3 separate regions of the Homo sapiens genome follow, and all the other regions are linked to region 2. The links come from fine-mapping of genetic effects on gene expression. A gene starts in region 2. Each other region holds a variant in brackets. All regions are shown on one strand. Distances are from middle to middle.

What was found.
Region 1: its variant is fine-mapped to the expression of ASB16 in lung (GTEx, PIP 0.94).
Region 3: its variant is fine-mapped to the expression of ASB16 in transverse colon (GTEx, PIP 0.92).

What each region holds. Positions count from the first base shown.
Region 1 is chr17:44,200,457-44,210,793 of GRCh38, forward strand. It overlaps UBTF (upstream binding transcription factor), which reads right to left. Exons shown (of 21, transcript NM_014233.4): 13 at 10,336-10,337; 14 at 9,862-10,017; 15 at 9,668-9,778; 16 at 9,189-9,277; 17 at 8,896-9,085; 18 at 7,408-7,455; 19 at 7,243-7,314; 20 at 6,998-7,141; 21 at 4,584-6,911. The coding sequence ends at 6,786. The region is part of intron 1 of ATXN7L3-AS1 (ATXN7L3 antisense RNA 1); the gene reads left to right. MIR6782 (microRNA 6782) reads right to left here and starts at 7,383; the gene lies at 7,315-7,383. RefSeq lists silencers at 1-76, 9,442-9,491, 9,912-10,337, 9,945-10,239 and enhancers at 1-269, 6,507-7,007, 7,649-8,848, 9,945-10,239, 9,949-10,337 and 1 more. The variant A/G (reference allele first, on the strand shown) is at 5,347.
Region 2 is chr17:44,165,859-44,176,549 of GRCh38, forward strand. ASB16 (ankyrin repeat and SOCS box containing 16) reads left to right here and starts at 4,846. Exons shown (of 5, transcript NM_080863.5): 1 at 4,846-5,232; 2 at 6,188-6,455. The coding sequence starts at 4,932. ASB16-AS1 (ASB16 antisense RNA 1) reads right to left here. Exons shown (of 3, transcript NR_049730.1): 3 at 10,115-10,691.
Region 3 is chr17:44,252,363-44,260,362 of GRCh38, forward strand. It overlaps SLC4A1 (solute carrier family 4 member 1 (Diego blood group)), which reads right to left. Exons shown (of 20, transcript NM_000342.4): 7 at 7,447-7,570; 8 at 7,135-7,219; 9 at 6,801-6,982; 10 at 6,051-6,261; 11 at 5,624-5,818; 12 at 5,297-5,445; 13 at 4,988-5,182; 14 at 3,311-3,484; 15 at 2,845-2,934; 16 at 2,134-2,300; 17 at 756-1,009. Among named protein-coding and RNA genes, the nearest start is that of SLC4A1, 12 kb to the right of the region's middle. RefSeq lists an enhancer at 4,712-5,668. The variant AAGGCTGG/A (reference allele first, on the strand shown) is at 4,012.

The sequences.
Region 1 (10,337 bases), 34 kb after region 2:
CCCCGCCACCCTCCGCTCCCCCCTTTACCCCGAGGCGTGCAGCCACTTCTGTGAAGAGGCCAGACTTGAAGTGGGGCGCAGTTAGGACCTCGGGGCGGAAAGCCTGTGGAGCCTAAGGGGCTCGCCCGCGCCTCAGTTCTCCCGGTTTCTGGGCGGGTCTCAGCCCACTCCAGGCTTGCGGACCAACAAGCGGCCGAGATGAGGGTCCGCTGCTGAGGTCGGAGGCCGAGCTGCGCCCTTCTGCGCGGAGCGCCCTCCCCGCCCCTCGTCCTAATTTAGATCCCACACCTGCTCGCCTTTCCTGCTTCCGGAACCCACGCTGGACCCCCACCCCTCCAGACAGCCTCCTTGTCACTGGCCAGATCCTTCCCCCGACCCAGTGCTGTTCCCCTGGGTGCAGCGTGTCCCTGTGCTCACGCTCTCAGTCCCTCTTTACCTTAGGAAGGGACAGGCCTTTTCCCAGCCGCGGTGGATGGCTGGATTGGCGCTTTCATCTCGGTTACTCTGTGTGTGGTGTCCTGGAACGGTTGTGTGACAGCCCTCTCCCCTCAAGAGATAAGATTAAAAAGGAGGATAGTCTGTAATCACATACTTGGAGCCATCTTTGGTTTTTAGTTTTCAGCAAATACTTATTTTTTTCTCACCGATTTCTCCCGAGAAACAGCAAACATTTATTGAGGCGATATTCCAGAGTAGTTCAGATCAGGCGTCTGATTTGAATTTAAATCGTTGGGCCTAGCAAATGAGTTTCCTGTGCCTCAGTTTCCTCTGTTGTCAGTGGGCATAATGATAGTCCTATCTCCTTGCGTTGCTGTAGTGATTAACAAGTCAGTGCATGTGAAACTCTTAGCTCTGTGTAAGTGCTTGGTAAATCTTAGCTGTTATTCTCACGGTGCTCCAGGTGCTGGGATAAAAGATGATATAAGACAGTTGTGCTTCTTCAAGAAGTTCACTGTCTTGTGGATAGATAGGTAGGATAATAATTGCAAAACAGTGTGAGGAAAACAACAGAGAGAAAACAGAGGTAGACAAAAGGAGACATCAAATGATGTAAGAGAGTTGGTCAAGAAAGGCTTCTTGGGCAGGGTGCGGTGGCCCAGGCCTGTAATCCCAGCACTTTGGGAGGCCAGGAGTTCGAGACCAGCCTGCAAAAATGCAAAAATTAGCTGGGCGTGGTGGCGGGCTCCTGTAATCCCAGGAGCTACTCGGGAGGCTTAGGCAATAGTAGTAATCCAGCTACTCGGGAGGCTTGGGCAGGAGAATCGCTTGAACCCGGGAGGCGGAGGTTGCAGTGAGCTGAGATTGCGCCACTGCACTCCAGCCTGGGCAACTGAGCGAGACTCCGTCTCAAAACAAAACAAAAAAGAAGAAAAAGAAAAACTTCTTATAGAGGGAGATGAACCAGGTGAAGGTAGGCCAAGAAGGCATTGGACATCCCCAACTGGAAGCTTCAGAAGCATGGATCAAGCTGGAACAGAGGAGTGGGTGGCAGAGCAGCAGGAGGTGAGCAGGCTGGATAATACAGGACAAAGCAAAGTAGGTGTTGAAAAGTTTGTGGGCTTTAGCCTGTAAGCTGTGAGGAGTCCTCAAGGGGAATCATTCACCAGACTTATATTTTTAGTGGATCATGCTGGAGTATGGTCTGGAGAATAATTTAGAAGCAGTAGGTTTTTTGTTTTGTTTTGTTTTGTTTTTTTAGACAGCATTTTGCTCTGTCACTCAGGTGCAATCTCAGCTCACGGCAACTTCTGCGTCCCGGGTTCAAGTGATTCTCATGCCTCAGCCTCCTGAATAGCTGGGATTACTGGCGCACGCCACCACGCTCGGCTAATTTTAGTTTTGTATTTTTAGTACAGACAGGGTTGCACCATGTTGGCCAGGCTGGTCTCGAACTTCTGACCTCAGGAGATCCGCCTGCCTCAGCCTCCCAAATGCTGGGATTACAGGCATAAACCACTGGGCCTGGCAAAAGCAGTAGGTTTTTGTTACTGATTGAGGTGTGTGGAGGAAAGGAGAGGGAGGTCTTGAAAACACCTTTACTAGGATGGGGAACTCAGGGGAGGACATGGGAGGACACAGGATGACTTCAGTCTGGGATATATTGAGGTTACTGTGGGATCAGCTGATGGAGACCCAAAAGGTGGTTGAACTCAGGTCTGGCACAGAGAAGTAAGCTAGGTCTTCAGGAACTTCAACAACATCGCCTCAACCTTTGTTTTCTCTTATCTCCCGCCTCCTTTTCAGGAATTCTTCACTCCAGTGATGCTGATCTGTTTCTTACCTAAATATGCCCAGTACATTCTGCCCTAAGGAATTTGCGCCATGGCCAGAAAATCCTCCTGGCTTCTCCCTGTTTACCTAAATCCTTCCTCATATCCCCACCCATGGCCATCCTCATACCAAACTTCTTTACAACTAGACTGTACTATTCATTCTGTGCTTGGCCTGGGCTGCTCTGTGGTGGTGACCTCTTTGGGCACGTGCCCAGTCTCCACAGTTAGCACCAGTTCATAAACACTAAGGCCTGAGCTGGTCCTGACTCTGGGTGAGGCCCTGGGGTTACAGCAACAAGCAAGAGAGACACACAAACCTTGTCCTAGCGCAGCTTACAGCCTAGCAAGGCCTGATGTGAAGGAAATAAGGCCTGAGTGTGAAGGCATTCAGGCTGCTGAAGAAACGTATAGTGTGGAGACCTTTTTTCTCAGGAGTTCAGGGAAGGAAGTGGTCTTTTAAGTGGAGACCAGAATTAACTAGGCAGAGAGAACACCATGTGTATAGGCCCTAGGAGAGAGCATGTTATGTTCGAGACATGAATGGTCAGTGTGGCTAGAGTCGGGGGAGGGCTAACGGGGGCAGCAGATCCCCAAGGGCCTTGTGGGCCAGACCTATTCACCCACTCAGCAAATCTTTCTTGATTGTCAAATGTATATCAGGCAGTTTCAGGTGCTGAGATTACTGTAATGAACAAGCAGATAAGGTGTCTTCTACTTGGGGAGATAGATAATAAACAAATACATAAACAAGAAGATGGAGGAGGCCTCTCTAGAGCAGGTGGTTGGGAAAGGCTTCTCTGTGAGAGGACATGTGAGTTGAGGCTTAAAGAATGAAAAAAAAAAATCAGGTATGTGTAGAGTTGGAGGAATAGCCATTCTAGGCAGAGAGAACAGGTGCCAAGACCCCGCAGGTAGGCATGTTTGAGGAACAGAAGAGATCACTTGGTTGGATCGTTGTAAGTGGTTAGGAAGAGCAGGGTGAGAGAAGATAAGAGAAGGAATGCGGGGGCCAAGCCTTGTAGGGCCATGGTAAGACATGGTAAATTTTCAGTACAGAAATAATCAGATTTATTTCTGAGATAATTTTGGCTGCCATGTGAAGAATGGGCTGTAGGGGGCGAGAGTGGAAGCAGGAAGACCAGCTTTAGGAGGTCTTTGCAGAAGTTGAGCAATGATGGTGGCCTGAAATAGGATGGGAGTGGCAGCTGTGGGAGCCACCCTGTGGGAGGGGTCGACAGATTTGAGACAGCTTTAGGAAGTGGAATGGAGAGGTCTAGGTGATTGAACCTCGAGGTGAAAGGGAGAGAGGAGTCAAGGCCAATACTCTGCTTTCTAGGTTGAACGACTAAGTGTTTGGTAATCATTTCGGGTCTTGAGGTATGAGATGTCTGCAAGATATCCCAGGGGATGCAAGGGTGTCTACACAGGTCTGCAGCTTGGAAGAGCAGTCTCTGTCGGCACCACCTTTCGGAATGGTTGCATATGCGTGATAATGGGAGGTTGAAGGGAGAGACATGAACACCTGGGATAAAATGAGGAAGAGCTGACACCAACAGAGTAGACCAAGAAGGCAAAAGACAAGACAAGTGTTCACCAGATGTAATGAACATGTTGGTGACCTTAGCAAGGAACCTCAAAGGATGGTGGTAAGTGGGAGGCCAAGAGGCACAACAAGCTTTTTAGCAGTTTGGCCACTATAGGATAGGGGCAAGGGCTGGGAGAGAGTTCTCCGACAGGACCTGGGTCTGCAGCCCTTTGAGGTTCCAGGAACCCAGCCAAGGCCTGCGCAGGAAAGGGTGTCTTCCCTTAATCTCAGAGAGTGAGTCATCTCAGCCCAGCCCAGCCTGCTTCCCATCAGAGGCCTAGATGGTCCTAGGAAAGTCATCCTTAACCCTTAACCTTTAACCTGGGATGGAGCTGAAGGCTCAAAGTGAGAGCGTGCTCCCTCAACTCCCCACGATAAGCCCTACACTAGGAAGGCTTGCATGCCCAGGGCGAACCCTTGACCCTAGTAGCTCATCACCTCCAATTCCCCAAGACCATGTACTTTGGGTGAAAATGCATTTGTTCTCCAACTTCTCAGAATCTTTAGTGGTCTCACAACCCAAGGTGAACAAATGGAATTGAGAAAAGGGCAAGAACAGTAGCACAGAACAATGTGAAGGTAGGTTGCCTATGGAATCTTTAGGGAAGAGGAAGATAGTTCTAGGAAGAAAAGGCAAATTGGCTTCAAGCATTTTTATAGATCAAACCTGTTGGGTCACCCCTGTGAACCTTCATTGATTCCAGTGACCAGACAGCAGTCAAACCTTTGTTTTTCACTTTATTATACAAAAAAGGGAAAACAAAACTTCCACAGTTGGCTTTAAGCATAGGCAGACACCTCTAAGCCACTCCCTCCCACCTCCCATGATACAAATTCAAGTTGTGGTGGTTGTTGAATCCTACAAAACACTCCTTAAATATTAGAAAAGAAGTTGGGGGTGGGGATGGGGGTCTTCCCACCCCAGCCATCCCATCCCAGTGCCAAAATGCACTCAAGAGTGACCTCTTACAGCACCAACACCCCCACCCTGACAGTCCTGTTTGTACTGTAAGAATTTTTCAATTTTTAAAACAGGAAAGAAAAAGTGCCCCATTCAAAGTTGTTTTTAAATGAAAATACATTCCACTGAAACACAACAGTGTAGGGGCATCCAAATAGGAAACTGGGGTTCTTTGCAGGGCTCTTGGGAAGAAATAGAACCTATAAACCCCTGTACTTAATTCCAGGATTAGGACAAAGGAAGGGGAATGGGAGTGGGGAGTGTCCCCCCCAGGCCTCCCCACCCCCAGCACCAAGGTCCAAGGCAAAGCAGAGACTGTCTGCCTTCCTTTGGGAGAGGGACCCACCAGCCTCTCTGGGACCAGGGCCCTTCACCGTTCTTGCTCCACCTCCGCGGCAGAGTTCCCGCTCTTCCCCCATTCCTTGGCTTTCATTCAGAGGGGGAAGGTGGAAAAGCACCAAGCCCCAATTTAATAGGTCAGTGACATGACCATAAAAAAGAACCCCCCAAATTTAGTCAACAAAAAA[A/G]TAAGAACTACAGAGATAAGGTGGCTTGGCTTATTAAGAGTCAAGGAATCAAGGTACCAAAAAATACGGGAGATGGCTGGGAAGAGTTAGAGACAGCTGCAGATGCAGCTTTTGCAGACTTCTTGCCCAGCTGTGGGGTTGGGGGAGGAGGGAGCAGACCTGAGAAATTAAAGGAAATAGGGGGTGGTGGGAGGATTCAAGGAAGGCTGGAGGGATGTGTAAGTTAGGAGCTCCCAGCACATTTCTTGAAGCCCAGGTTCTGAGCCTGGGGTGGCCAGGCTTGGCCTCTCAGATGAACAGGGGAGACCTTTTCCATCAAATACAAGCTTTAAGCTTCACACCATCTTGCCTGCCTTTCCGCCTTCCTGCTGGACAATGGAGACCAGCAGCTCGGATGCATGTGACTCTGGCAGAGGGAGCCTGGTCTGGGAAGCATCCGAGAATGGCTTCAGCACACTCCCCCTAATGGAATCAGAGACTGGGCAAAACAGAGGATGTGGAGAACGGGGCAGCCTCAGCCTGCTCCCACCAGGGTCAACATCTCCCGGCCCTCACCGACCCTTTTTCCAGATTCACAACAAACTGATGTGGGCTCTAGGACAGACCCCTTTACACACACACACACACACTCACACTCTTTTGCACACATCCACAGCTGCACCCATGCTATGTACAGGAACACACATACACATACTCTCTTCCACATACATCAAGACCATTTTTAAAAGGTTCCAAATCTACCCCTAAACCCTCCCTCTCCCAGAAATGACAACAGAGACGGCAGCCGAGATCGGTAGGAAACGTCTCGTTGACAGCTCAGAGCTTAAAAAAAAATATATACACATATATAAAAAACACTTCTGCCCCCTCCCCCATGAACGGGTCCAGGCAGCTCCTTCCTGCAGGGGGCAGGGGAGAGGGCCACCAGGGCAGTGCCTGTTTTCTTGAAGGCACCGACCCTCCTCCTCCCCATGTTCCCTGCCTCCAGTTCCAATGCAGGGGTCCAGGTGGCAGGCCCCTCTGGGAAGGAATGGGTCTTCCCCAAGCTTCCACCCCACCTTGGATTGGGCCGCAGGTGTGGAGGGCCTCATCAAACTCTTTGGGACCCCCCACCCCCACTCTCCGGTCCATTGTCCATGCCGGAACCGCAAGTGCAGAAGTGGGTGGGGTGGGCCAGGCTGGTCCGGTGCTGGCTTAGTCTGATAGTTGCTGTCCCTGGAGGAGGACCCCCAAGGGCTGATGTCTCTGAGGCTGCAGAGTCCTGGCCTGGGCTCCTCCAGCCCCCTACCCCCACCGTATTTTTTTTTTTTTTTAAAGAAAGAAAGAAAGTGGGGGAGGCCAGGGGGGCAAGGGACAGAACATGGGGGAGAAACAAAGGTGGTCAGTTGGGGAGGGGAGCTCCTGGGCTCTCCCTGGCTGCCCTGGGGTGGGGCTGAGCCTCAGTTGGAGTCAGAGTCTGAGGAGTCCCCTGAGGAGGAGGAGCTGGAGCTGCTGCCCTCGGACTCATTATCTTCATCCTCATCGTCATCCTCGTCGTCGTCTTCGTCCTCGTCATCCTCTTCATTCTGGGGGGTGAGAAAGGATGTGGAGTCACCAGGTGGCCCTCCTGGCAGGACTCCCCTCCCCTCCCACTGTGCCCTGTCTGCCCCACCTCATCCCCATCCTCGCTCTCGTCCTCGCTGCTGGACTCAGAGGAGTCGCCGCCATCTTCAGAGGAGTCCCCATTCTCATCATCTTCCTCTTCTTCATCCTCGTCCTCGTCATCCTCATCCTCTTCATCATCCTCCTCGGACTCCTTGGAGGGATGGAGGCACATCAGTGGTCTCTGGTCTCTGCCCAACCATTCCAGGCAGTGCCCCCCGCCCCACGCCCCTGCATCTGGGAGGGGCTCCTTACCGACTTGGACTGCAGAGTAGTCCGGCTGGATTTGGGGTTTGGGCCTCGCAGCTTGGTCATGCTCTTACGTTTCTGCAGGATGGGGACACAAAGGTGGCAGCCATGAGTTCGACACCCCTGAATTCCCCCACCCCTACCCCACTGCTGCTCTGCTCCCAGACTCACATTGGAGATGTACTCTTTATATGCTGCACGGTCCTGGGGAGACAGGCTCTGGGGGAGACAGAAGCGGCAAGGGTTGGAACATAGCCAACTACTGCTGACTGAGCATGCTGGCCCAGTGCTAGGCAGTGGGCTGAGCATTTATATATCATCACCCCATCTTACCCCTCCCAGGCTCCCTAGATTTTGGGTCTCTGCAGAGAGCCCCTGGGATCTGAGAACACAGCTCTAATTTTTTTTTTTTTTTTTTTTTTTTTTTTGAAACAGGGTCTTGCTCTGTCACCCAGGCTGGAGTGCAGTGGCACAATCTCAGCTCACTGCAGCCTTGACCTTCCCAGGCTCAAGTGATCCTTCCAACTCAGCCTCCAGAGTAGCTGGGACTACAGGCATGTGCCACCACACCATGCTACCTTATAATTTTTTGTAGAGACAGCAATCTCACTATGTTGCCCAGGATGGTCTTGAACTCCTGGCCTCAAGTGATCCTTCATACCTTGGGCTCCCAAAGTGCTAGGATTACAGGCGTGAGCCACTGCGCTGGCCCAAACCCTAGTATTTCTGCTTCTGATACCCAGAGTCCTTCTCTAAACCACTAAGACTATTGGTTTTCACATTTTCCCTGTTGCTTTTCGCAAATGGAAGCTCCTATCAGAGTCTTCCTCACTCCAAAGAAGTGCCCCCGTGATGAGTCAGCCTGGCATCATCAACCACACCCCAACACCAAACCCTTGAGCCATCGATGAGGCAGTGGGGCTCACCAAACTCCTGAAACAGCAAATCCCCACAGTCTTCCTGGGTCCTTGGCCAACCTGCCTTGGTGAGTGGGAAGGACACAGGTGATTCTCTCCACTTTACAGATCTGACTACTCAACCAAAGCACAGAGGGGAAGCACAAAGGCCAGGAGTCTAGGAGAGGTCCCGTGGTCCCAGATGGGGGAGGAAAAGGCAGTCTGATTTGGATTCTTCTACTTACTGTGTGACCTTGGGCAAGTTACTTAACCTCTCTGAGCCTTGGTTTCCTTATTTTTAAAAGGGTGATAGTGGCTGCGGACGGTGGCTCAAGCCTGTAGTCCCAGTGCTTTGGGAGGCCGAGGTGGGCGGATCACATGAGGTCAGGAGTTCGAGACCAGCCTGCCCATCTCTACTAAAAATACAAAAATTAGCCAGGTGTGGTGGTACATGTCTGTAGCCCCAGCTACTCTGGAGGCTGTGGAAGGAGAATCGCTTGAACCTGGGAGGTGGAGGTTGCAGTGAGCCGAGACTACACCACTGTACTCCAGCCTGGGCAGGAGAGCAAGACTGTCTCAAAAAATAAAAAAAAAAATAAAAATAAAAGGGTGATAGTGACCGTTATCCTGAAGGATTGCGAGGGCATGGAATGAAATCATGAATGAGACCAGCCAGCACAAGTGGGTGGATGGGCCAGGCTAGGATGGTGCTGGCTTAGTCTGATGCCTCTCTGTTCCTTCCAAGGGTCCCTTGCCCTCTCACCTTAACCCAGAGGTCCAGGTGCACCTTGTACTGCTTTTGCTGCTCCTCGGCCAGCTTTTTGTAGTGCTCCTTCTGGCTCTGGGAGATGCGCTGCCAGCGACTGCCGATCTCCACCATGCGCTCCTTCAGCGGCAGGTGGTTCAGCTCCCCATTGGACAGCAGCTCCTGGGAGAACTTCTGGTAACCGTTCCTGGGAGGTGGGTTGGTAGAAGGAGGGTCAGGACCCCAACAAAGCAGCCATCCAGCCCTGACCCTCCCCGACCTCCAGGGCAGACTCCAACCCCCAGGCTCACATGGGAGGCTTCTTGGGTTCTCCCTGGAATTTCATCTTCTTGGAAGAATTTGTAGCAGCTGGAGGTGCCCGCATCTCACTCAGCTCTCTCTGGAGGGAGAAAGGTCACGCTCACCCCCCAGTCCCACCCCCAAAATACTGCTGCCTTCTGCCTCATGCCATCAGCACCTTAGCTGGCTGTCTTTTTCTGTGCCAGGGAGGAGGAGAAACAGGTAGCTAGTGAGCAACTTCCTAACAGCTCACGTCTGAGGCAGGCACCACAGTTTACAAGTGCTTTCACAACTGCTCGCATCCTCCGAGTCAGCCTGGAGGTTAGCAATGTCACCCCCACCTTACTGATGAGAGACAGAGGTTCAGAGAAGGAAGCTGAGACTTGCTGAGAGTCACAGACCAAGGCTGGGACTTCTTGCTCAGAGCTGCCCAACCAAAGGGGAGTTCCCGAGCTTTCAATGAATGGGGTGGCCCCAGCCCCATTCCTACCTCATATCGCTTTTGGTCTTCGGCTGCCTTCTTAATCCACATCAGTTTCTCCTTCTTTTCCATGTTATTCCAGGTCATTTCCATGGCTTTCAAGGCCTTCACCCGGTCATTCTGGGGACCAATAAGGGTATCAGCCGTGGGAGGGGTCACCCGGGGCTAGAGGCTGCAGTACTACCCTTTCCCACCCCTGTCACCTTGAAGCGGGCCAGGTAGTCGCCGATAACGCTCTGTTGCCAGATCTCCTCAGCTCTTTTGGGGGACTCGGGCAGCTTGCCCCGTTCCTCGCGCTCCCCGCCGGGCTTCCTCTCCGACTGAGCCTTGAGCGCCGCCTCTCGGGCCTTGTACTTGGCCTGCGGGGATGGCCCGGGCGTCAGCCTTCCACCCACCCCCAGGGGGCGCGCGCTCCCCGCGCAGCAGCCCAGGCGCTCCCGCCGGCGGGCAGAAGCATGGGCTGGTGCAGATGTCTCCCGCCTGGGGCTCGCCCCCGCCTGGTCTGCGGCGCTCAGCTGACAGCTTCCCGCCTTCCGGCTGCTGGGCGCCGGCCCCACGTCCCAGCCCAGGCACCGCGTGGCTCAGGCGGCCAGGGGCGAGGTGGCACGGCCCGCCAAGGGGAAGAGGGGGCCCTGGCAGCCCCCCTGGGGGCACAGCGCTCCGCCAGGCAGCCTGACCT
Region 2 (10,691 bases):
GTTGCCAACCTTGTTTTCCTTTCTGGAAGGAGGAGTTGGGAAAACTCTCCCAACTCATGGGCAAGAGGAGGCAGGTTAAAGAGCCCGGTTTGGGCCAGGTGTGGAGGCTCATGCCTGTAATCCCAGCACTTTGGGAGGCCGAGGTGGGAGGATCCCTTGGGCCCAGGAGTTCAAGCCCAGCCTGAGCAAGGTGGTGAGATGCTATCTCTTGAATAAGTAAATAAAATAATAAATAGCCCTGTTTGACAGCCAGCCCCTCCTGCCTTAGCCTCAGCCTGCACTAAGCAGCTAGGAGACAGAGGCCTTCCATGGGCATGGGCTTGGCACTCCTCTGGGGGGAAGCGTTAATCTCCTTTTCCCAAAGAGGCTGATCCCATGGATTCCAGTTTTGTTGTTGTTGTTGTCGTCGTTTTAGAGACATGGTCTCACTCTGTCACCAAACTGGAGTGCAGTGCAGTGGTGTGATCATGGCTCACTGCAGCCTCGATCTCCTAGGCTTAAGCAGTCCTCCCATCTCAGCCTCCCAAGTAACAGACTACTGGTGCGTGCCACCACGCCTAGCTAATTAACAACATTTTTCTGTAGAGATGGAGTCTTGCTGTGTTCTCCAGACTGGTCTTGAACTCCCGGGCTCAAGTGATCCTTCCCACCTCAGCCTCCCAAAGTGCTGGGATTACAGGTGTGAGCCACAGTGCCCCACTGGATCCCAGTCTTAAGGCTGAAGTGAGTAAGTGCTTTGAGAACTCCATGTTCACTTACCTGCTGATTACAGCAGGGCCCTGTTCTAGAGGCTTTTGTGCCACAAGGCCAGGGCAAGAAGGGGCTAATTCCCCTGCACCCTGGTCCCTTCACATTCCCATTGGGTTTTTCTACCTGAACCTACCATACATTTCCTTCTCTCCCACCTTCCACTCCCTGCTAACTCCCCATCTACACTGGGATCTTCCTGCACCTAAACCCCCACAGCTGGGAGTGGCAGCATGCACCTGTAGTCCCAGCCACTTGGGAGGCTGAGGTGAGAGAATCACTTGAGCCTAGAAGATTGAGACCAGCCTGGGCAACATAGGGAGATTTCGTCTCTAAAAAAATAAAAGCTCCCCTCTGCCCTGGGCCTATTCCCCATTCTTGACACCCATGAGCCCCGGTCCCCCTGCTCAGTCCTGATCAATCCCACGCTCACATCCTGGCTTCTTGTGTGCTTCACTACCCCACAGGCTCTGAGATCCCAGAAGGCAGGCTGGGCATCTGATCACCTGGCCCTGTTCCCTCCAGGTTGAAGTCAAGGCCTCCTTTCTCTGCCCTCAGGAAGCTAACTCTACAGACAAGGGGACTGAATACAGTGGTATCTTGGGACTAAGCTGTTAGGGTACCTAGCTCCTTCAGGTCTGTGTGGCAAGAAGGCAGGGGAGGGGCTAGGCTATGACTCTTGTGTGCCTCAGGGAGGAAGGGGACACCCACCTGCCTTGGCCTCTCTTGGTCTCACCCAGCCTTGCCAGATTCTCAACCCTGGGAACCCAGCTGTGGGTGCCCAGCCAGGCCGTTGATGTGGCAATTAACACACCAAATGGGTGCCAACAGGGTTCATCAAGGCTGCATTTATAGAGGCATCTTTCTCTGAGGACCTCCAGGCTTTGCTTTGTATGATCTAATTCCTCCTCTGGGATCCCCCACCCTGGACTGCCACCAAGAGGCTGGAGCCAGGCAGAGAGTAGGTGAACAGTAGAGTAGGGGCAATGCCGGAAAAAGCCCAGGCTGCTGCCACCCACTTGGGCGGGCGGGTGGATGGATGTTTGCTCTGGCAGAGAACAGGGACCTTCGTTCAATGCACTACACATAAGAGGCCCGCCTGCCATGAGCCAAGTGCTCTGACTGCCAGGGCCTGCTCTGGAGCCCACATCCAGCATGGCAGACCCACATCAACAGCATAGATAGGTGCTTTACAGCGTGCCCCTGAGTCCTTCAGGAGTGCAGATTGGGCAGTGGCTGGAACTATAAGAGTCAGGCAATGGGTTGCTGAAGAGACCTCTCAGAGCAGGTGACCTTAGGGGTAGATCCTCAGGAAGGTGTTGAGGGAATTCTGAGCTAAGGGAATGGCCTGACAGGGAACGGTTGTGGGGAGCCGTGCGTGATGAGGATGCCTACCCTACGTGAGTGGCATGGGGCCAAACCAAGGAATTGGGGGCTTAGTTGAAAAGGGCAGGCCAGGTGCAGTGGCTCACACCTGTAATCCCAGCAATTCAGGAGGCTGACTTGGGAGGACTGCTTGAGGCCAGGATTTGGAGCCCTATTTTAAAAAAATGAAAGGACAGGTATTGGAAGGCAGCAGAAGTTTTTAAGCAAGGGAATTAACCATTTTAGACAGATCATTCCGGCAGCGGAGCAGAAGGGATATGGCCAGAGGAAGAAACACCAGGTGAAAGACTGAGTTGATCCAGGTTTAAGGCATTACATCGAGGGGCTGAACTTGAGACAGTCCCTGAAAATGTAAGAACAGGAGCTAGAACTTGCTTATGGGAAGGGCCTAGGGAGAGGAAGAAATAAAAGATCACTGGGCAAGGTGCTGCTGCAGGGCCAGGAGGCAGGACAGGCAGCGGGAGAAGGGCCAGGAGGAGCCCCAGATGCAGAGGGGACAGACCAGCCCTGCCTGCAGGCCGCTGTGCACTGAGTGAGCTCAGGGTGAGCAGAGCTTTTGAGCCCTCCCCTTCCCCAGCTTGGCAGGCACACCAGCTTGTGTGGTTTCACGGCTTCATTCCTCCCCCTAGAGGCTCCTGGAAGCACAGCTGCTTTCTCCTAAGAGTGAACAGGTCTGTGGCTTAAACATCTTAGGTCCATTCCCAGAGTTTCCAGCTCAACCCCTTGGCTCTCCTCAGGCCGGCCATGTGAGCCCCCTTAGCAGCTGGGTTAAAAAAATAAATCAAGGATGATTGAAGGTGCTGGGAGCTGTGGCTCACGCCTGTAATACCAACACTTTGGGGGGCCGAGGCGGGCAGATCGCCTGAAGTCAGGAGTTTCAGACCAGCCTGGCCAACATGGCGAAACCGACTACTAAAAATACAAAAATCGGCCGGGCGCGGTGGCTCACGCCTGTGATCCCAGCACTTTGGGAGGCCGAGGCGGGCGGATCACGAGGTCAGGAGATCGAAACCATCCTATTCTTGGCTAATACGGCGAAACCTTGTCTCTACTAAAAATACAAAAAATTAGCCAGGTGTGGTGGCAGGCGCCTGTGGTCCCAGCTACTCGGGAGGCTGAGGCAGGAGAATGGCGTGAACCCGGGAGGCGGAGCTTGCAGTGAGCCGAGGTCGCGCCACTGCACTCCAGCCTGGGTGACAGAGCGAGACTCCATCTCAAAAAAAAAATAATAATAAATAAAAATACAAAAATCAGCTGGGCATGGTGGCATGCACCTATAATCCCAGCTACTCAGGCAGCTAAGGCAGGAGAATCACTTGAACCCCAGGAAACGGAGGTTTCAGTGAGCCGAGATCACCCCACTGCACTCCAGACTGGGTGACACCATGAGAAAAAAAAAAAAAGGATGATTGAAGGCAGTTTCTACAGACTAGTCTGTCCTGCTTGGAGAATGGGGGAGGCTGCCAGGTGGCTGCAGCAGCTGAAGGCAAAAAGTGTACCATCTTTTTTTTTTTTTCTTCTTTTTTTAAGAGATGGAGAGGCAGGGGGTGGTGGCTCACGCCTATAATCCTAGCACTTTGGGAGGCCGAGGCGGGCAGACCACGAGGTCAGGAGTTCGAGACCAGCCTGGCCAACATGGTGAAACCCTAAATTAAATCTCTACTAAAAATACAAAATTTAGCTGGGCATGGTGGCGGGTGCCTATAATCCCAGCTACTCAGGAGGCTGAGGCAAGAGAATCGTTTGAGCCCGGGAGGCGGAGGTTGCAGTGAGCCAAGATCGTGCCATTGCACTCCAGCATGGGAGACAGGGTGAGACTCTGTCTCAAAAAAAAAAAAAAAAAAAAAAAAGATATAGGTCTCACTGTGTTGCCCAGGATTGTCTCAAACTCCTAGGCTCAAGCAATCCTCCTGTCTTGGCCTCCCAAAGTGCTAGGATTACAGGCATGAGCCACCATTCTTGGCCCAAAGCACACCATCTATGTGGGGTCCTGGCTCTGCCTCTCACAAACTGTGACCTTGAGCCAGTAGATTACTTTGTTAAGCCTTAAATTCCTCATCTGTAAAACAGAGATAAGACCACCCATCTCAGGGGCATTCAACTGTGATAATTTCATTTATTGTCCAAACCAAGTTTACTAATTATTGGGTGGGCTGGGAAGTATGATCCCCTGGGTGAAGGTGGATATGAATGTGATTTAAACACCGTGAAACTCTGTGCATATGTACAGAGTTATTGCTGTTACTGCAGATGCTGGGAAGAGCTGCTCACCTTCTCAGTAACTCTGCCTTGACCTCCCCTTACCTCCTGTGCTGAGGTCAGCCCTCTCTCCTCCACGTGGGCCAATGGTGGCTCCTGCCCTCCAGCCAACATCAGAGAGGCTGGAGGCACCTTGTCTTCCTCCCAGCCCTGCCCATCTCCATGACTGACCTTTTTGCGCACCCTGGACCTTGCCAACCCAAGATGCTCGCTCTAGAGATGAAGGTGGATGCAGATGCTGGGGTTCGGGGGTGGCCTCAGCTGAGGGCCTGCTGACCAACCAAAGGGTATCGGCAGGGGCAGGGGCTGGCCCTCACCCTGGGCTGGGGGTTGGGCCAGCAGCTTCTCAGCACCAGGATCATGACTCTGAGCAAACCATGTTTACCAGAGCAGCAAAGGACCTATTTATAGCCTCAGCTGCTGCTTTCTCTGGCTCACGGTGGCGGGGGCAGGGTGGCTCCTCAGAGCAAGGGAGGTAGTCGGGTCGAGGGAACCTGGCTCTGCCCAGGTGCCACTGCCCAAACCCCTGGGCCCCATCCATGGCAAGAGAGACCTTCCCCTTCACCTCCTCCATGCTGCGCTCTCTCCGCCTGCAGCAGGAGTGGCTGGAATGGGAGGACCGGCGGCGGGCGGCTGCCCAGCAGTGCCGGAGCCGCAGGTGCCCGTCAAGTCCCCGGGCCCGACTCACTAGGCCTCACCGTTCCTGCCGAGACCCAGCTGTCCACCAAGCCCTCTTCTCCGGCAACCTGCAGCAGGTCCAAGCCCTGTTCCAAGATGAAGAGGCCGCCAACATGATTGTGGAGACTGTGAGCAACCAGCTGGCCTGGTCGGCTGAACAGGGTAGGGGGCACCAGAAGAGGGCAGAAGAGGAGGGAGAAAGAAGGGGAGTGGGTGGGGAAGGGGGAGAGTCTAGGCCCCTCCTTCCCTGCAGACCACAGACTATAGCAGCCCTTTCCACCACCTATCCTAGCTCCCTCCTAAACAGAGATGAGGCAGGGTTAGCAGTCTGTATGTCTTTTAAGAATTAAAAGTTGACCGGGCACAGTGGCTCACGCCTGTAATCCCAGCACTTTGGGAGGCCAAGGCAGGCGGATCACGAAGTCAGAAGTTTGAGACCAGCCTGACCAACATGGTAAAACCCCATCTCTACTAAAAATAGAAAAATTAGCCGGGCATGGTGGTGCGCACCTGTAATCCCAGCTACTCAGCAGCTGAGGCAGAAGAATCACTTAAACCCGGGAGGCGGAGCTTGCAGTGAGCCAAGATAGCGCCACTGCATTCCAGCCTGGGGGACAGAGCGAGACCCTGCCTAAAAAAAAAAAAAAAAGAGACAAGGTCTCACTATGTTGCCCAGGCTCATCTCGAACTCCTGAGGTCAAGTGATCATCCCGCCTTGGCCTCCCAAAGTGCTAGGATTACAGGTGTGAGCCACCACCCCAGGCCCCAAGGTGAACAAGCCTTTGACACTATTAGCCATTCAAAGACGCTGAGATTTCCTTAATGGGAGTCACTCTACTTAGTTGGCCCCTGTGGTTTTATACAGCAATTAATTTTTTTATGACACATACTATGTTTTGTTACAGATTGATAAGCTGTATTAAAAGGCTGTTCCAATTTATTCTTCCACTTCAGGACTTGAATAAGCCCCCTTCCACAGGTACAGCCTGGCAGTGTTTGTGCTCAGCAAACCATGCAGAGGGAAGGCCAGTGTCAGCTGTCAGCTGGAACCAGCATCCCCACTCCCTGCCCTGCCCTGTCTTATACACCACCTCCCAAAACTATTTGCTCTCCCTAGGGTTCTGGGTGCTGACCCCCAAGACCAAGCAGACGGCACCCCTCGCCATCGCTACAGCCCGAGGCTACACAGACTGTGCTCGACACCTGATCCGGCAGGGAGCTGAGCTGGATGCCCGTGTCGGGGGTCGCGCTGCCTTGCATGAGGCCTGTGCCCGAGCCCAGTTTGACTGTGTGCGGCTGCTGCTGACCTTCGGAGCCAAGGCTAATGTGCTGACTGAGGAGGGCACGACTCCTTTGCACCTCTGCACGATCCCCGAGTCCTTGCAGTAGGTGCCTGGGGGCTGAGACAGTTTGGGGAGAAATGTGTGTGTGTGTCTCCAGCTCACAAGGCCAGAAGAGGGAACCTGACAACCACATGCAGCTTTGTGGTTCATAAAGCACCGCATATACACATCTTCACAATAACCTGGAGACACCTCATCCTACAGATGAGAAAAATGAAGCTCAGAAAGGCTTAGTAACTTGTCCAAGGTCACATCTGCTAAGCCCAGGAGGCAGAAGCCCTGTTGCTTTTTGGGAAAACTCTGTTCCAACTGCAGTCTCCAATACCCTGTGAATCCTTTGTAGCCAAACCTAGCTGTTTTTTTTTGTTTTTTGAGACGAAGTCTTGCTCTGTTGCCCAGGCTGTAGTGCAGTGGCGTGGTCTCAGCTCACTGCAACCTCTGCCTCCTGGGTTCAAATGCCTCAGCCTCCCAAGTAGCTGGAATTACAGGTGTGTGCCACCACACCTGGCTAGGTTTTGCATTTCTAGTGGAGATGGGGTTTTGCCATGTTGGCCAGGCTGGTCTTGAACTCCTGTCCTCAAGTGATCCACCCACCTTGGCCTCCCAAAGTGCTGGGATTACAGGCGTGAGCCACCATGCCCAGCCCAAATTCCTAGTTGTTTTGAGGTATTAAGAAAGATCTGGCCAGGTGTGGTGGCTCACACCTGTAATTCCAGCTACTAGTAGGTCGAGGCACAAGAATCGCTTGAACCCGGGAGGCAGAGGTTGCAGTGAGCCGAGATTCTGCCACTGCACTCCAGCGAGACTGTCTTAAAAAAAAAAAAAAAAAAAAAAAAGCCGGGCGCCATGGCTCACGCCTGTAATCCCAGCACTTTGGGAGGCTGAGGCGGGTGGATCACGAGTTCAGGAGTTCAAGACCAGCCTGGCCAACATAGTGAAACCCCGTCTCTATTAAAAATACAAAAAATTAGCCAGGCTGGGCATGGTGGCTGGCGCCTGTAATCCTAGCTACTCGGGAGGCTGAGGCAGGAGAATCGCTTGAACCCGGGATGCAGAGGTTGCAGTGAACCGAGATTGTGCCACTACACACTAGCCCCTGCAACAGTTGAGACTCCATCTCAAAAAAAAAAAGACCTATGGGCCAGATTCAGTGGCTCACACCTGTAATCCCAACACTTTTGGAGGCGGAGGCAGGAGGATTGCTTGAGTCCAGGAGTTTGAGAATAGTTTGGGCAACGTAAGTGAGGTTTTTGTCTCTACTAAAAATAAAAACTAGCCGGGTATGGTGGCATGAGCCTCTAGTCCTAGCTACTCGGGAGGCTGAGGCAGGATGATCTTTTGAGCTCAGAAGTTCAAGACCAGACTGGGAAACATAGTGAGACCCTGTCTCTACAAAAAATAAAATTAGCCGGGCATGGTGGTGTGCATTGTAGTCCCAGCTACTCAGGAAAAGCATTTGAGCCCAAGAGGTCTAGGCTTCAGTGAGCTATGATCATGCTGCCACTGTACTCCAACCTGGACAACAGGGCGGGACCCTGTCTTAAAAAAAAGTGGGAAGAGAGGTATGGGGGTGCCTCACACCGATGTTAGGAAACACAGGGCTAGATTTTTTTTTTGGAGACAGGGTCTCACTCTGTTGCCCAGGCTGGAGTGCAGTGGCACAATCATGACTCACTTGCAGCCTCGATCTCCTGGGCTCAAGTGATCCTCCTGCCTCAGCTTCCAGGGTAGCCGGAATCACAGGCCAGTGCTACCACACCTGGCTATTTTTTTTTTTTTTTTTTTTGAGACGGAGTCTTGCTCTGTCTCCCAGGCTGGAGTGTAGTGGCCCGATCTCGGCTCACTGCAAGCTCCGCCTCCCGGGTTCCCGCCATTCTCCTGCCTGAGCCTCCCGAGTAACTGGGACTACAGGCTCCCGCCAACACGCCCGGCTAATTTTTTTTTTCTGTATTTTTAGTAGAGATGGGGTTTCACTGTGTTAGCCAGGATGGTCTTGATCTCCTGACCTCGTGATCCACCCGCCTCGGCCTCCCAAAGTGCTGGGATTACAGGCGTGAGCCACCGCGCCCGGCCCAACTGGCTATTTTTTAAAAAGTATTATTTTTAGTAGAGACATAGACTCTCTATGTGGCCCAGGCTGGTCTCCGACTCCTGAGCTCAGGCAATCCTCCTGCCCCAGCCTCCCAAAGTGTTGGGATTATAGGCATGAACCAATACACCAACCCTCCCACTTTTTTTAAGGTTGGCAGTTTCTTGGAGTCCCTGCATGAGGGTATTTGCACTTTCACAATCAGGTCAACAGACAGGGTGGCAGGTAAGGATTCAAGGGCTTCTGGAAGACTCTCCACTGCCCACAAGCTGGGGACCTCTCCCCACTAGATCTAGATGAAGTCCAAGAAGTGGTCCACATTTGCCAGCCCTTTCTTGGGTTCTTACAGGCATGTGGTGTGCCTTCCAACAGACTTCATCTTTCTAAGTAAGATGAGAATCCCCACTTACTGGAACCCTACTGAGCGAGCTTTGGAGTGTTAGTTAAATTTAGTATTTGGAAGCCGGGCGTGGTGACTAACACCTGTAATCCCAGCACTTTGGGAGGCTGAGGCAGGCAGATCACGAGGTCAGGAGATCAAGACCATCCTGGCCAACATGGTGAAACCCTGTCTCTACTAAAAATACAAAAATTAGCCAGGCATGGCAGCGCATGCCTGCAGTCCCAGCTACTCAGGAGGCTGAGGCAGAAGAATTGCTTCAACCCAGGAGGCAGAGACTGCAGTGAGCCAAGATGGAGCTACTGCACTCCAGCCTGGGCGACAGAGCAAGACTCTGCCTCAAAAAAAAAAAAAAAAGATTGGGCATGGTGGCTCACACCTGTAATCCCAGCACTTTGGGAGGCCGAGGTGGGTGGATCACGAGGTCAGGAGATCGAGACCATCCTGGCTAACACGGTGAAACCCCATCTCTACTAAAAAAATACAAAAAAATTAGCCGGGCATGGTGATGGGTGCCTGTAGTCCCAGCTACTTGGGAGGCTGAGGCAGGAGAATGGCAGGAACCCGGGAGGCGGAACTTGCAGTGAGCAGAGATCGCACCACTGCACTCCAGCCTGGGCAACAGAATGAGACTCCATCTAAAAAAAAAAAAAAAAAAAAAAAAAAAAATTAGTATTTGGAAACAAAAATTAGCCCCACAATTAGAATTTACCAAGGAGATAATTCAGTAGCTTATGGAAGACTGGCTGCTACTCACATCTTGGCTACAGAGCAAAGAACCTACCTGGAATATGTGAGCAAGGATTTTGGCCATTTTGGGAAAGGGTATTTGATTATCAGAGTTTCATCGAGGATGGTGGATCTGCTCCTGTTTCCAGCAGCTGCCGTTCTGGCTTTTTAATTATAAGTTACTGTTAGTTTGGTTTCATCATTATTAATTTAGTTTGTTGCATGTTTGGTTTACCCTGCAGTATGTAAGGATGCATGTTTGCCACAACAGTGTTCTGGCCTATAATTTTCCCTGGAACTGGGAAACATGCACTCTTTAAAACCTGTTTTTGTTTTTGTTTTTCCTTTGGTTTTGTTTGTTTTCCCTAGGGGAAAGTGGAGGAGGATGGCCCCAAGTGCCTGCCTTTGCTTGAATGATTGTGGCCTGGTTTAGAAGAGTGGTCTTTTAAGTGTGGGGACAGAAAGAAAATATTATAACTTGTATTTATTTTTTTTTGGTGCATACTGTTTAATTTTCTATGCTTCATAACGTACACAGAAGTGGGTTTTCAAAATTTTGTGCTATCAAAATGTTAGGAGATAAGGCCGGGTGTGGTGGCTCACACCTGTAATCCCAGCACTTTGGGAGGCCAAGGCAGGAGGCTTGCTTGAGCCCAGGGGTTTGAGACCAGCTGGGGCAAATGGTAAGACCCTGTCTCTATAAAAAAAAATTTAAAAAATTAGCCAGGTGTGGTGCTGCCCACCTGTGGTCCCAGCTACTTGGGAGGCAGAGGCAGGAGGATTGCTTGAGCTTGGGAGGTCCAGGCTACATGAGCTGTAATCACACCACTGCACTTCAGCCTGGGCCACAGAGAGAGACCCTGTCTCCAAAAAAAAAAAAAAAAAAGGAGACAACTGACAACTGAATGATTCAGAACCAGACCTTGGGGTGGAGACAGAGTAGACTGTGGGAGGGACTGTCTGAGGCAGTGAGTACTATTTCTGGTGCAGCCACTAACTTGCTGTGTGTCCTTGGCTGCACAAATCACTCCTGGGCTTAAGTTTTTCATATGAAAACTGA
Region 3 (8,000 bases), 85 kb after region 2:
TTTTACAGATGAGGAAACAGGCTCAGAGAGGTAAACAACCTGCCTAAGGCCACACAGCTGGCAAGGAGTCAAAGCCCTGCCTGCCTGACTTAAGCCCACTCCCTTAACCTAATGAGGGTCACAGAGGTCAAACACACACACCTTTCTCCTCACCCCAGCCCAGAATGCCATCAACTGCCTCCTTTAAGAATTTTCCCTGACCTCTCCATCTGCAACCATGGCACTGCCCACACCGAACCCAGCTCGACTCTTGGCTGCTCCAGAACTGAAATCAACCCCAGTGACCCTTCTTTCTTCTCCCCCACATCCCTGGACTATGGCTAGAGCACCGCCCCTTGTATCAGTCATGGAGCAGCTGAGCTGGAAGAGAACTGGGGGACATCTGTTGAACCCTCCAACTGTGCAGACAGGGAAACTGAGACCCAGAGACAAGGAGGGATACTGGGTTAGCAGCAGGGCAGGGCTAGAACCCACAGTTCACTGGACTTCTGTTGGGTAAGTCAGAAGGTGGGGTCTGGTCTGGAGAAGGCCTCGGAGTGGAGCCCCCTTCCTCCCTGCTCAGACGCCCAGCCCAGTGCCTTGGCCTTTCCTCCAGGATCCCCTCGTGTGAGTAGGGGATGCTGGGGAGATGTGGGGAAGTGGTGCAGGATGGGGGAGGCTGGAGGAGGTGCTGGGTCCGAACAGAAAGGGGAAGGGGAAGGGGCCGGGGGTGAGGGGCAGGAGGATGGTGAAGACGCGACCCAGCTTTCACTCACCCACAAGCACAGCGACCAGGAGTCCACTGATCCGCTGCTCTTTGACCTCCTGGATCTGGGCTGCAGCCCCTGGGGTGCTGGCTTTGCCCATGACAGTGAGGGCGTTGGCATGGGTGACGGAACGCACGGTGGTGGCACTGAGCCAGGGCATCCCAAAGAGGGCGGCCACCCCACCCATGCCTACTACCAGCAGCAGGTCCAGGTGGAAGCCGGAGCCCTTGACCATCTTGCGCTCAGGTTTGCTGACAATCAGCCTACGGTAGGGGAAGGTGAGGGGTAAGCAGGGTTCTCCCCTGCCTCCTCCACCCCCTCCTTCCTTCTCCATACTTGGTGTCCTTGTAGCTCAGTTTTGTCTTCTGTGCCCCTCGCTCTTTGAGTTCCTTGCTCCCCTCCCTCCCGCCCCATCTTGAGAATCCAAACTCTTAAGAGCAGAAATGTCTTCACAACATTCAAGGCTGATTCGCAGGCAACGAAGCTTCAGCTTCAGGGAGCTTTGCTTGTACAGGCCCCTCCAAGATCCAGCACCTAATTTTATAGTTGTCATTTTGCATTTTTTTTTCTTTTTCTTTTTTTTCCTAGAGTCTTGCTCTGTCGCCCAGGCTGGAGTGCAGTGGTGCGATTTTGGCTCACTGCAACCTCTGCCTCCCGGGTTCAAGTGATTTTCCTGCTTCAGCCTCCCAAGTAGCTGGGACTACGGGCACATGCCACCACACTCGGTTAATTTTTGTATTTTTAGTAGAAACGGGGTTTCACCATATTAGTCAGGCTGGTCTCAAACTACTGACCTCGTGATCCCCCCGTCTTGGCTTCCCAAAGTGCTAGGATTACAGATGTGAGCCACCTCACCTGGCGCTTTTTTTTTTTTTTTTTTTTTGAGATGGAGTTTCACTCTCGTTGCCCAAGTTGGAGTGCAATGGCGAGATCTCGGCTCACTGCAACCTCCGCCTCCCGGGTTCAAGCGATTCTCCTGCCTCAGCCTCCCAAGTAGCTGAGATTACAGGCTCGTGCCACCATGCCCGCCTAATTTTTTGTATTTTTAGTAGAAACAGGGCTTCACCATGTTAGCCAAGCTGGTCTCGAACTCCTGACCTCAGGTGATCTGCCCGCCTCGGCCTCTCAAACTGTTGGGATTACGGGCGTGAGCCACCGCGCCCGGCCACGTTTTTTTTTTCTTAAAAAGAGCTCTCCAAATTATACAACTTCTGGTCCCACAAAACCTGGAACTGCCCCTGGCTTTTCACTATTCCTGCTAGTCGGGAGGGCCACACACCCGCAGGGACTAGCTTGCAGTCCTGGGTCTCTTGCCTGCCTGGGAGAATGCCAGGGAAAGGTCCCTGCCTCCCACCCTCCCAGGCCCAGCCCCCACCCTGTCTCTCACGTGGTGATCTGAGACTCCAGGAATATGAGGATGAAGACCAGCAGAGCAGGCAGGGCGGAGGCAAACATCATCCAGATGGGAAACTCGGAACGCAAGCCCAGTGGGTGGATGACCCAGCCCCGGGCTGAGGAGTTGGACACCTTGAAGCCATCAGGCACCGAGAGTTTCTGTGGGAGGGGGTAGCAGGTAAGAATGCCAAGGGCAGGAGGATGGGGAAGGGTGGGAGCAGGAGGAGCCAGGGTCCTAGGGGTCGGGCAGTTAGGTTGGAGGCACTTGGGAACTTACTTATATTGAGCACTTGCTCTGTACCTAATCATTACACTAATCCCTTTACATCCATCTGCTCGTTCCCCACTTTAAAGATGAGGAAAGAGAATCAGAGAGGTTATGTAGCTTGCCCCACATCACACAGCTATTTGATGGCAGAGCTGGGATTCATGCCTAGATCTGCCTGGCTCCAAAGAATACTTCTTCCTACTGCTCTGGGTTAAGGAATGAAGGTGGCAACCTGGCCCAGCACCTTGCTTTGGCCACAGGGGTCCTCTGGGGCTGTGAGAAGCACATGGGACTCCCAGAGGAGGCAGGGATGGGGTAGAGGTAGTCCCAGCTGGCTTCAGGTTGGGGAAAGCTATTCTAGGGAAGGGGCATGCTGGGGGGTGGAAATGAGGACCTGGGGGGTATCATGGTCTGAGGGCTGGGAGGAGGGGTCACCTGGGTGTAGGTATCCTGAATGAAGAAATCCACCAGGACCATGATCAGGATGGAGATGGGGACCCCGAAGTCCCCGATGACCCGACGCAGCTGGGGGCAGGTGAAAGGACCAGTGGTCAGTGCCCAGTCACTCCCCACCTCCTGCCTTCCTCCTGCCCTATATTCACCCACGGGGCCCTGCTCTTCCAGGGGATCCATCAGCATCTAATGCCCTGTCCTGCACCTCAGCTATGTCTGCCTCCTTTCTTCTTCCCCCAGCAGTTCTCAGGCTGGGCATGCCATGAAAGTGGGAGGGGCTTGCCCATAGAGTGAAACCCTAGGTAAGGATAGGGCCAGGGGAGGTTGGAATTGGGAATGGGAATCTGAAAAAGAAGGGAAGCTAAGGGCACTGAGGAATTTGGAGCGGGGGGGCTTTGGGCTGGGATAGGGCAGTGTTGGCAAGGACAGGCGAGGAGGGTATGCTGACCTTGCCAGGGAAATAGGAGCTGTTCTTGAACTTGCGCAGCATCATGGCAAAGAAGAAGGTACCGGCCATGAGCACAAGGGAGAGGAGGGCTGTGTTGGGCAGGGGGCCCTGAGGTTTGGGCACCATCAACACGTTGTAGTTATAAGTCTTCTGTAGTGGGTGGTCCTGGAAGATCTGCAGCAGAAAACCAAGGCATTCTGTTCTCTCCCAGCTTTGGCTTGGGCTGGAAAATACCACCAGCTAACTCTACCCAGCACTACTATCCATTCATCCAGTCATCTATTAATTCATCATCCATCCATTTATCCACCCATCCATCATTCATCTATCCATTATCCATTGATCATCCATTGATTATTCATCCATCCATTCATTATCCATCTACCCATCCATCCACCTACCTATCATCTATCAACCCATTTATCCATCCATTCATCCGTCCATCATCCACCCACTCATTCATCAATCATCCATCCATCCAACCATCCATCCATCCATCCATCCGTCCATCCATTATCCATCTATTCATCCATCCATCCATCTATCTTCTTCCTCAATTGACATGGAAACAGAGGATAAATGGGATTCTACAGCTTGGTTTTCAGGAATGAAGACAGCCTAGGTTTAGGCAGGGAGGGCCATGGAAGGCAATGGGTGTGTGTGCGAGCACACATGTACACCCAGGACCTGGGAGACATGAG[AAGGCTGG/A]AGGTCAGGAAACAAGGGTCAGGGAAGTTTCTAACAAGGGGTTAAAAGACCTGGACACAGAAAGACCCTCCATCCAACAGAATCAGGGGACAACACATAGGGCTCACCCTTCTCCCATATAAAATGCAGGTACAAAGGCAAGCAGAGCTTAAGATGATGGGAGCCAAGCCAAGGTGGCTGGGCACTCCATCCACAAGCCCTGCAGCTCTTGAGGACAAGCACAGGGGAGGGAGTGGGGGACTTCAGAGGCTCCAGAGTCCCCCCAGCTCTCACTGTGCATGTACTTTCACATGCTCAGTGTCATGCCCATACCTACCCATTGCTCACGTCATGTGTGGTCATGAACTGGACATGTGCACACAGAGGCACCCTCTCATGCCTCAGCAAGAGTGCTGGCCACAGGCAGCAGGTGCCAACACATATGTGGTCACAGTCAACACAGCTGCACAGTCCTGTGTGCAGATGTGTGACTACACAGACATAGACACATATGTTGACACAGACACATATGTTGTCACAGTCATGTGCACAGTCACATGGTTATGTACACAGGTGAAAGCAAAGACACACAAATGCTGCACAGACACATGTGCGAGGACACAATGGCTCAGTCTTTTTTTTTTTTTTTTGAGACGGATTCTTGCTCTGTTGCCCAGGCTGGAGTGTAGTGGCACAATCTCGGCTCACTGCAACCTCCACCTCCCGGGTTCAAGCAGTTCTCCTGCCTCAGCCTCCTGAGTAGCTGGGATTACAGATGCATGCCACCACATCTGGCTGATTTTTGTATTTTTAATAGAGATGGAGTTTCACAATGTTGGTCAGGCTGGTCTTGAACTCCTGATCTCGGGTGATCCACCTGCCTCGGCCTCCCAAAGTTCTGAGATTACAGGCCTGAGCCCTCGCACCCGGCCACTGTCTCAGTCTTATACACAACCTCCCGTGTGCATTAACATCCCCATAGGCCCCCACCTTGATCAGCTTGGAGAAAGTCTCATAGATGAAGATGAGGGAAATGAGGAAGGAGAAGATCTCCTGGGTATAGCGGGAGATGAAGCGGACCAGGAAGCTACCCTCGAAGGCCACCACCAACACCACCAGCAGGATGAGCCAGAAGCCGATCCACACGCGGCCCACGATGTACTCTAGACCGTTGGTCTCGCAGAACTGCAGGGTGGTCAGAAGAAGCCGGTCAGTCAAAGGGTCTTGGGGCAAGGCACCATGCATCAGGCAGGTGGTGCGGGGGACATGACAGGGTCAGTGGGGCAAGGACAGAACTACCGAGAAGAAGGCTTCCTCAAACACCAGCAGGGGTCCTGAGAAGCCGACCACAAGCAGGGGCTGAGCCCCCAGCAGGGCGAAGAGAATGCCCTGCACTGCAGTGGAGATCAGCAGCTCCGACACTCCCATCTGGTTCCGGGTCTTTTCTCCTGTGGGTAGAGGTCACAGTGGGATCAAGGTCAGGAGATCATTTCCAGGAGCCCATAGAGCAAGTCATGGTCAGGCTGATGCAGGGGTCTGGAGGGTCAGACAGAGTCAGAAGTTGGGGCTGAGACAGAGGCCAGAGGGTCAGAGGCAAGAGTTAGGGAGACAGGTATTGGCACTGACCCAGGAGGCCGCCGAAGGTGATGGCGGGTGACAGTGCAGCAAAGTAGATGAAGATGACGGCAGCCAGGACCTGGGGGCTGAATGCATCTGTGATGTCACTCAGGTAATAGGGGTAGCGGCGCCGGATATCACGCACCAGGCCCCCGAAGAGCTGGCCTGTCTGCTGCAGAGGGTCATCTGGGCCCCCATTTAAGTCTGTGGTGGAGGATAAGAGCATGGTCAGAGGGAGTAGCTGGAGGAGGTGAGGGGAAAGGGGACTGGAGGGTGTAGGGGAGATTGTCTGATGGGAATGGGGCGGCGAAGAAGTCTGGAAGATGTGGGCAAAGGGAGCGATGAGAGGGGAACATGTGATGGGAGACAGAGGCTACGCTGAGGTGTCTGGGGGTCGGTGGGGGCTCAGAAAGCCTCAGCTGGGAAGGGCAGGTACCTAGGCCCTTGTAGAAGCTGGAGTCTGGCTTGGCAGGGCTGGACTGATAGCGCCTTCGAAGTAGCTCCCTCTGCACAGGCACCAGACTGAGCAGTGCCTGCTCGGAGGGGGCATCGGTGGGAGGCAGCACTAGGCTGCAGTCCAGGAAGCCCTCTAGGGAGTGCAGCAGCTCCCCTCGGCTCTGAGCCATGTAGGCATCTATGCGGAACACCTAGGGGCAGGAGACAGGGTCAGAGCTGCCCGGACCTGCGGAGGGAAAGGACCCAGGAGTCCACAGCCAGGGCCTCCAGGAACCAGAACCCCCTCAGGCAGCAGCTCCCATTGCCAGGAACTGCTTTTCCTGCCCGCTCCCACCCCTACTCTCCCCACTAAGAAAGAGCTCTGGGGAGACAGACGGGGGCCCTGGGTGGGGAAAGGAGAAGGAACTAAAGCTAACCTGGTGGGTTAAGCAGACTAGATGAAACTAGAGCTGACTAGGCCCGACCAAGCCTGACCTGACCAGGTGGAACCAGGTCATAGTGAGCTGGACTAGACTAAGCCAGGCCAAAGCCAACCAGACGAGACCAGGCCAGAGCAGGGCCAGACTGCACGCCCCGACTGCCCCCGCCAGGTAGGATAGCAGCAGCTGGATTAGGCTGAATGGGTCAAACCAGTGAACCTAAAGTAACCCAGGCCAGGTTGGAGAGCAGGCCTCAGCCACCATGCAGGTCCCAAGCTTCCCCAGCCCAGCCCTCTCCGGCCCTTCCTTACCCTCTCTGACATGAGGGTGGCAGCAGCCCGGCCAAGCTGGGTGTAATCGATGTGGGGGGCCTCAGGTCCCAGCAACACAAAGAGGAAGCGTATAGGCACCGGCAGCTCCACCGCCTCCAGCTCCGCTGCCTCCTGCAGCCTCACGAAGCCCAGCACCGGCTGCTCCAGGAAGTCGGCGCGGCCTGTTAGGGGATGAGAAGATCAGGCCAGGCCGAGGAGCCCAGGGTGGGTGTGCTGAAGAGATGGGGCTGCGGGGGTCCAGGCTGAGGGAAAGACAGGCTGAGCCAAGACACGAGGGGTGTGGAGGGCTGAGGGTAGAGATGCCTGTTCTTACCCACTAGCACCAACGTGGCCTCTGAATCCGGGGGAATCTTTTCCAGAATTCCAGATGGTGAGTGCCCTTCTGTGCCCCCATCTCCCTGTGGGAAGGAGGGTGGTGACGGGAGTCCTCGGGCCAGTCTGACCTGGGAGACCTGAGCATCCTCCCCTTCCCATTCTCGCTTCCCAACTCTCCTGGCACCCCCCGGGCACAGGAGTGCTTCTGGTCCCCTGCTTGTGGTCGGTTTTTCAGGACCCCTGCTGGCGTTTGAGAAAGCTCTCTCCTTGCCCCACCCTGACCCTGACCCTGACCCTGTAACTGACTCACCTGCTCACAGAAGAGCTGTGTCTCCAGTGAGGAGTGTTGGGGGAGCAGAGGCTGTGAAGGATCCCCAGAGCGTGTCAGGACTGCAGGCTTCACACCCCCCAGGGCCTCCAGCTCTCCAGCGTGGCTGCAGGACGTACAGGGGACATGGGCTGAGTAAGCTGTTCAGGCTGAGCTATCAGTGGTGGGAGGGATCAAGGGCGAACATCAAGGGACTGGGGTAGACATCAAGGGTAGACATCTGGGACTTCCCAGACCAGACCAGAGAGACCCTGGGATGGAAGGAGAATCAGAGCCTCCTCTCCAAGGACGTTGTAGATGTAAGTGGGTGGCCTCTGGAATGACGAGGCGGGATCAAGAGTGGCTACAGAAAAGGGCCTTGCAGGTCTGCCCTCCTGGGGACCAACAGCCCCCAACTCTGAGCATAGGACATGGCCACCCCTTTCAAGGTGTCAGAGATGGGAGCCATAGTGGAGGAAAGTGGGCCCCTGCCTGGTGAGGGTAGGGCCACCTGGATCCCGGGGGAGAACTTGGGGCAAGTGGGCTGGGGAAGTGGG